Regions from separate parts of the Homo sapiens genome. Here all the other regions are linked to region 3. The links come from fine-mapping of genetic effects on gene expression. A gene starts in region 3. Each other region holds a variant in brackets. All regions are shown on one strand. Distances are from middle to middle. Region 1 has its middle 43 kb from the start of PWRN1. Region 2 overlaps LOC105370733 (a long non-coding RNA gene). Region 3 holds the start of NPAP1 (nuclear pore associated protein 1).

Evidence for each region. PIP is the estimated chance that this variant, and not a neighbour inherited with it, causes the effect. A credible set is the group of variants that fine-mapping cannot tell apart.
Region 1: its variant is the best candidate, but not a certain one, in a credible set for the expression of NPAP1 in thyroid (GTEx, PIP 0.50).
Region 2: its variant is the best candidate, but not a certain one, in a credible set for the expression of NPAP1 in fetal neocortex (Walker 2019, PIP 0.72).

What each region holds. Positions count from the first base shown.
Region 1 is chr15:24,599,912-24,602,679 of GRCh38, reverse strand. No RefSeq gene overlaps it. Among named protein-coding and RNA genes, the nearest start is that of PWRN1, 43 kb to the right of the region's middle. The variant T/C (reference allele first, on the strand shown) is at 1,240.
Region 2 is chr15:24,395,226-24,397,993 of GRCh38, reverse strand. The region is part of intron 2 of LOC105370733 (a long non-coding RNA gene); the gene reads right to left. Among named protein-coding and RNA genes, the nearest start is that of PWRN3, 45 kb to the left of the region's middle. The variant T/C (reference allele first, on the strand shown) is at 1,525.
Region 3 is chr15:24,674,222-24,676,989 of GRCh38, reverse strand. It overlaps NPAP1 (nuclear pore associated protein 1), which reads right to left and starts at 1,215. Exons shown (of 1, transcript NM_018958.3): 1 at 1-1,215. The coding sequence starts at 1,122.

The sequences.
Region 1 (2,768 bases), 74 kb after region 3:
TGCTTGAGTCCAGAAGTTTGAGAGCAGCCTGAGCAACATAGTGAGACTCCGTCTCTACAGAAAAATAAAATTAGCCAGGTGTGGTGGTGCATAGCTATTCAGGAGGCTGAGGTAGGAGAATCACTTGGGGGCATGGGTGGTTGAAGCTGCAGTGAGTCATGATTGCACCATTGGGTTCCAGCCTAGGTGACAGAGTGAGACTCTATCTCACGCACACATAAAATTTTTTAAAAGTGCAGAGGACATAAACAGACACTTTTCAAAAGAAGACATACCCATAGCCAACAAGCATAGGAAAAAATGCTCAACATCACTAATCATTAGAGAAATGCAAATCAAAAACCACAATAAGATACTATCTCACACCAGTCAAAATGACTATTATTAAGGAGTTAAAAAATAACAGATGCTGGGTGAGGTTGTGGAGAAAGGGGGATGCTTATACACTGTTGGTTGGAATGTTAACTAGTACAGCCACTATGGAAAGCAGTGTGGTGATTTATCAAAGAACTTAAAGCAGAATTGGCATTCGACCCAGCAATCCCATTATTGGGTATACGCCAAAGGAATATAAATCATTCTACCATGAAAACACACGCAGGGTATGTTCATTGCAGCACTATTCACAACAGCAAAGACATAGAATCAACCTAAATACCCATCAATGGAAGACTGGATAAAGAAAATGTGGTATGCATACACCATGGAATACAATGCAGCAATAAAAAGAATAGATCATGTCCTTTGCAGCAACATGGATGGAGCTGGCGGTCATTATCCTCATCAAACTAATATAGGAGCATAAAACCAAATACTGCATGTTCTCACATATTATAAATGAGAGCTAAACATTGAGAACACATGGACACAAAGAAGGGACCAAAAGGCACTACAGCTTACCTGAGGGTAGAAAGTAAGAAGAGAGAGAAGACTGAAAAACTACCTTTTGGGTACCACACTTATTGCCAGGACAATGAAATAATCTGTGCATCACACCTCCATGACGCACGCTTTACCTATAAAACAAACCTACTCACGTACCCCGAACCTAAAATAAAAGGCAAAAACATAAAATTTTTGGTAAAAATAAAATTTAAATGTCTTTAGAATTATTTAAATATTTTGTCTGAATAGTCAAGCAGGTCAGATACTGTTTTAGCTAGATGCTTTAAGGCTGTAAACTGCTCCTGTGATATTGGTAATAATTATTTGACTTGTCTTGCTTGTAGCCATAGTAAG[T/C]CCAAGGGATATGTGGAGTTCTTAGCCCAACTGTGCCCTCTGACTGTACTGGGAAGGGTGAGACATTATCTGCATCTCTGCCTTTTGTCCTGGGCTTTGCATCTGATAATAAACAAAAAAAACAATGCTTACTTCTTAGGTTTTTCACTAAAAATCAGAGTTGCTGACAGTTAAAATTACAATTAATATATGTAGTTAAATCTACTAGATACATGCAAAGTTTTAGGGAAAGTAAGATGTATTTTCAGAAAAAAAATTATACGACAGCATGTGAATACGTGTGTGTGTTTTTTTTCACAGAGGGTGTGTTACAGTTGTCTTTAAGCTCTGCTGTCCACGGGTGGCCTAAGTGTTAATAGCTCAGTGGGCCCTCTGCCTTTTCATGTGAGGTGGCTGCCCTCCACCAGCGAGGGCAAAGGGCCAGTGTGACAGCCTTCTGTATACACACTTGAGGCTCCCTAGGTCTTGTGTGGCATCCAGGAAAAATGAGGTTGCACAAACAAATTTAAGGATGCTAAATGTGGGGGATTTTATTGCTAATAAAATGGCTCTCATTGAGAAGGAGAGCTGAAGAGGGAACGGGGAGGCAGGTAATCTTCCCCTGAAGGCTGGCCATCTCCACCTGAATTCTTATCTGAAGTTATGCTATCGAGCTGTCCCTCTGAAGTCAAGCTGCTTCTCTTCTACATCCAGCCATAGTCCCTGATGTCCAGCTGCTTCTCTCTGTTGGCTGAGTCTAGGGTTTTTATAGGCACAGGATGGGGTGGGGTGGGCCATGGGTGGTTTAGGAAAAGGTAACATTCAAGCAGGAAAACAGGTATATAAGTTCGCACTTTGGACCACAGTCTCAGGCTTTTTTGCTTGAGGGTGGGGCTTTACTAGGGACCTCTGTCTGCCTAGAATTTCTCTGCCTTTTGTTGCTATCACAAGCACCTGTAAGTATCATTTGCATCAATTATAAAAATACAACATTATTTTATGTCACAATAAAAACACAAAACCATTGAAAAACTGTAACACAGAAACTTTTTATCACTTAGAAAATACATATATATTGAAAATAACTATTTTGAACTTACATAAATGTGGGTAATGGTCTTATATCACTCCTATGATCACATAAGATAAAAAAAGAAAGGAAAATAGGTAACAAGTGTTTTCTAAAATGTCACATACTTAGATCAAACTCTTCTGAATCACTTTTCAATTCACCTTGTCCATGATTTCTCTTATGTTAGCATCATCTCTGATGACTAGAAGCTTTGCTGATGCCACACTTATTGCGAGAGTACCATAAAACTTTCTGTTAGATTATTTTTCTGATCTACCAATATCACTCTGCAAGTTCTAATGTTTAACGATATCACCAGAATGTGAAAATGGAAGTGTTTTTTACACCAAGTTTATATGTGTGCACAAAAAAGCAATCAAATTATGCCTGTCTTCTGACCAATCGTGTTTTTAACAACATTAATTTTATGATACATCTCTATTTGAAAGATGTACAAATATGCCCTTTAAAACAAATA
Region 2 (2,768 bases), 280 kb after region 3:
CACAACATTAAACTTTAGTTATGGAGGTATTTCAAAATGATACAAGAGACAACTTAAAAATCTTCCAATAGCCAACACTGGAACACTTTGTGCAATTAAAAAAAAATAGTGGCCAAGCATGGTGGCTCATGCCTGTAATCCCAGCACTTTGGGAGGCCAAGGAGGGTGGATCGTCTGAGGTATGGAGTTTGAGACCAAACTGGCCAACATGGTGAAACCCTGTCTCTACTGAAAATACAAAACTTAGCCAGGTGTAGTGTCTCATGCCTGTAATCCCAGCCAGTTGAGAGGCTGAGGCACGAGAATCGCTTGAACCCAGGAGGCAGAGGTTGCAATGAGCTGAGATCGCACCATTGCACTCCAGGCTGGGCAACACAGAAAGGCTCTGTCTCAAAAAAAAAAAAAAATAGCACATATGCATTGTAAAATAAATATCCATATTTAGATAATGATATAAATAAAAGATGCATGTATAAGTAAATACATTAATACACATGAAATAATTGGAAAAGAATAGGCACATGTTTATGGTGAAGGTTTAAAGGAATTTGTAGACATTCTGCCAATAATGAATGTCTACTCTTGTTGACAGTTTGTACACTTGGTATGATATGATGAGAATGGCACTTTTTGGCCAGGCACAGTGGCTCACGCCTGTAATCCCAGACCAGCCTGGCCAGCACATAAAGACCCCATCTCTATAACAAAATAAATATCACTTGAGCCCAGGAGTTTGACCCTCGCCTGGGTAACATGGTGAAACCTTGCCTCTACCAAAAAAACTAACAAACAACAACAACAATAAATTAGCCCAGCATGGTGGCACATACCTGCAGTCTCAGCTACCCTGGAGGCTGAGAGGGAAGGATCCTTAAGCACAGAAGATGGAGGCTGTAGTGAGCCAAGCTCATGACACTGCACTCCAGCCTGGGCGAGAGAGTGAGACACTGTCTCAAAATTAAATCAATAAAAATGATAGTTTTCCTCATGATCTTCCTCCCCTAAACCCACGAATCCAGTCTTATCATTAGAGAAACATCAGAGGAATCCCACATTAGTAATATTAATGTCATCAAAAATAAGGAAACTCCGAGAAACTGTGAAAGTCAGAGAATTCTAAGGAGACATGACATGTACCTGTGATGAGGTATCCTGGATGAGATTCTGGAATAGAAACAGGACATTAAGTAAAAACTAAAAAAAATGAATAAAGTATGAAGAGTAGTTATAGTGTTATAAAACTGATTGCTTGTGACAAATGTCCTACATTAATGTAAGAATTTCATAAAAATGGAAACTTCGTGGGATATATGGATATTCTATGTACTACATTTACAACTGTTCTGTAAACCTAAAACCATTCTTAAATTTATAAGGTTTCTTTATCTTTAAAGTCACTGCTGACCTTATAAAACAACATGAGCAATATGTTTGATGGCCCTTAGTGCATCTCCTGAGCTTCACCATCTTCCTCAATCACTGAAAGTAGCTATTACTGTGAATTATTTGTTATCCTCTAATTTG[T/C]GTTTATTATATTTACCTCTATCTTTATATTTCTAATATCTATAATGTTTATTTTTCTGGTCTTCAAACATACATGCATGGTTTTAATGTATTTATGTCCCTAGTTTAATCGTGAGAAATCATGAGACAAATTCATATTGTGGGAAAACCTACAAAATATCTGACCTGTACTTTTCAAAAAAGTCAAGTTCACAAAAAATAAGTGAAGACTGAGAAATCTGCAGACTGGAGAATACTTGCTGTGTCAGGTAGAGCCTGCGATGGTGCCCGTGAACCTCACCTGTAAGAAATACACCGCTTACGTTATTTCATGTGCTCTGTTGAGTGGCCTCCTCCGTGTCTCACATGACCAACACACCTGAACTCAACATTTTTCCAATTCAGAGTTCTCCTAGAAAGTGGTTGTCTTGATATGAATGTAGTGGTCACAGGTCTGAAAAGTTCCGTACGGGCATCTGACAATAATTAGAAGTTTACAGTAATCCAAACCAAATGCCCATCAATCAATGAGTGGATAAGGAAACTGTGATATATATGTATACGTATACATATATATGTATATATATGTATACGTATACATATATATGTATACGTATACATATACGTATACATATATATGTATACGTATACGTATACGTATACATATATATGTATATATATACGTATACATATACATATATATACATATATATGTATATGTATACGTATACATATATATATACGTACACATATATATATATACACACACACACACACACACACACATATATATATATATACATGTAATGGACTACTACTCAACCATAAAAAGGAATGAGTTAATTGCTTTTGCAGCAACCTGGATGAGATTAGAGATTATTATTCTAAGTGAAGTAACTCAGGAATAGAACACCAAACATTGTAGGATCTCACTCATAAGTTGGAGCTAAGTTATGAGGATGCAAAGGCATAAGAATGACAAAATGGACTCTGGGGACTCAGGAGAAAAGGGTGGGAAGGGGGTGAGGGATCAAAAACTACAAACAGGGTGCAGTGTATACTGCTTGGGTGATGGGTGCACCAAAATCTCACAAATCACCACTAAAAAACTTACTCCTGTAACCCAAACCACCTGTTCCCCAATAACCTATGGAAATAAAAACAAATTACAGTAAGAAGGATGCCTGGTCAAGGATTGGACAATTAGGCATTGAGTCATCTGCAAGGATAAATAAGTATCCCATGAAAGGTGAACTGTAAACATC
Region 3 (2,768 bases):
CTCAGGGCTCTTCTCCAAGGTGTGTAGGTCTCCCTCAACAGACAGGCAGGGGAGCTTAGCAGGTGGGGGAAGCTCACCTCGATCCCACAGCAATGGCAGTGAAGGGGGCAGCGGCAGCAGCAATGGAATCGACATTTTCCTTTTGCAGGGCCTGTTGCGGGCAGCTCTGGGAGGAGCAGCGCTCCTTGGAGGAATACAGAAAGGCTTCTCATCAGGCATCCTCTTTCCGGACATCAGCGGAATCGGCAAGCCTAGGGAGCTGGGCGGTGGCTCTTCATTCAGCACTTCCGCAGCCAACTTCTGCTGCAGCAGGGAGCAGCCAACGGCTGGCTCAGGGGGCGCTGTTGCATCCGGATCAGGCTTTCCAAGATGCCGGGCACATCCGGCCTGGCTGTGTGTGCTGGGCATGGCAGGGCCTTCCAAGCAGGAGCTCGCTGGAGACGCCTGGGCCTTCTCACTCATGCTGTTTTCTGAGAACTTGTGGTAGACATTTCCCTCCAGAGGCCCAGGGCTGCATCTGAAGGAGGCCACGTCTCCCTGGGTGCCCTGGGACCTGGATGTGGACGATGCTTCTCCGCTGCTAAGGGGGGTCCTTTTCTCGTCATCCTCCCCTTCGATCTGCACCGGATCCTCATCCTTCTTCACTCTTCTGGGCCCTTCTTGGGCCCACACCTCGGTCTCCTCCAGGAGAGTGGCTGGGATGGGCTTCCTGGCCTTGACCGCCGGCTCACGTGGTGAAGGCAGCAGGAGAGTGAACATGCGGCTGGGAGGAGGGATCCTTACGGAACTGGGGTGTCCAAACCTCGGGGGGTTCCGAGCAGGCAGCATGGGTGTCTTCCTGATGGCCAGCCCCCAACCCACAGCCGGCAGGACCCCCAGAGGGGCGGCCGCAGCCCGAGGGAGAGGACACGGCCTCTTAGGGGCGACGAAGATGCTGGCTGCTGAAGGCCTGCGACGGGCGTTCCGGCGGAACAGGCCGCGGAAAGGGCGCGGGGTGGGTACAGAGTGAGCCCGACCGGGCGGGGAGGCGTCCCGGGACAGGGGAGCGGGGGCGCCACGCCCTGGCCCTGGCAGGGGCCGGCGGCGGCACCCGGGTCTAAATTTACTAAGTAAATTGCCCATTTAGAGCTAGCCGTGCCTCCTACCGTAAAACAGGGTCAGCAGTGGACTCAACTCTCCTCAGCCACCGCCTCCTCTGGCGACCAAGCACAAACTGACTGGCTCTACGCCTGCGACGCCGCCGCGAGGTTCCTCACAGAACCAGGGAGCGCCAGCGGGGGCGCAAAAGGCAGGGGTCAGAGGGCAAAGGGCGACGCCCCGTCGGCCCCAGCTGCCCCAGGACCCCCGGAAGCCCCGCTGCCGGTGGCAGGTGTTGCACCGCGTGGCCTCTATGAGGGAACTGCTGGGGCCTGCGGGCCCATCGCCAGAGCTCTTGTCACCTGGGCGCCGGCTCTGCCTGTTCCTTAGCCCTGGCCCGGCGCTGTTGCACGCAGTGGCCCTGTGTCGGCCGTCCCCATTCCCCGGTTCACAGAGGGCACATCTGCTTCAAGTTAAGCACAGGACAACCTATATCCTGCCAGCCTCCTCTAGGACCTTGGCAGTGCTCTGTGCTGCCTGGAGCCAGGTGTGCCGTCTCTGTGGCGCCAGGGTCACCAGCCAGGCCGTGAGGGTTTCCGAGGAGGGGACGTGGTGCCTTGTCCTGACTAGATGCTACGCCCTACCACATCTCTTCCTGGCAGGCAGGGCCTCTTCACTTCTTTTCACAAATTTGTTTTAAACAACATTTAAGGCTGGGCGCGGTGGCTCACGCCTTTAATCCCAGCACTTTGGGAGGCCAAGGCGGGTGGATCACCTGAGGTCAGGAGTTCGAGACCAGCCTGACCACCATGGTGAAACCCCATCTCTACTAAAAATACAAAAATTAACTGAGCGTGGTGGCACGCACTTGTAATCCCAGCTACTAGGGAGGCTGAGGCAGGAGAATCGCTTGAAAGCGGGAGGTGGAGGTTGCAGTGAGCTGAGATCACCTCACTGCACTCCAGCCTGGGGGAACAGAGCAAAACTCTTGTCTCAAACAAAAACAAAAACAAAAAACCACAACAAACAACAGCAACAACATTTAAGCCTTAGGCTGCTTGCTCCTTGGGTCATTGATATGACAGTGGCCTAGCCAGGCTTCGAACCTGGGCTGTGTGATTCCAGAGCTGGTGCCGTGGCCTGTGTGCCTCCTTGTTATGGACACATCATGTATTCTCATTATTTCCTGTAGTCCTTAGGGTACCTAGCACACAGCACATCTGTATTAAGCACATGCGTTCCTAGGGGGAAGCCCTTACTTCACCTCATAAGTTGGTCATGGCAGGCACTGGGCTCCAGTCTCCTCTGAAGACATGGGGCAGCGACCCCCAATAGTCAGCAAAGCAGCATCCCACACTGTTCTTCTAATTGAGCCTTGCAGCCCAGATTTCCTTTTTGGTCTAGTTTGAAGGATCTAAATATGTAAAGATTATAGTCCAGATCCATTTTGGCCTATCCCGAAAGAAATTCACCAGTGGATTAATCCAAATGGATAAGCCAGTTCTCTGGCCTTCTTGGAATATGTTAGAAAGCAAATTCATCATGTATTTGCAAGTCAGTAGTGGAGCAATGTATTCGATTAAAATATGATCAATACAATTTGGTCATTGTCCGCATGCCAGCAAGGCCCACTCTTTACCACACATTACTGTCACCTAAGTATAACTATCCATATTCTTATGCCCAAGGAA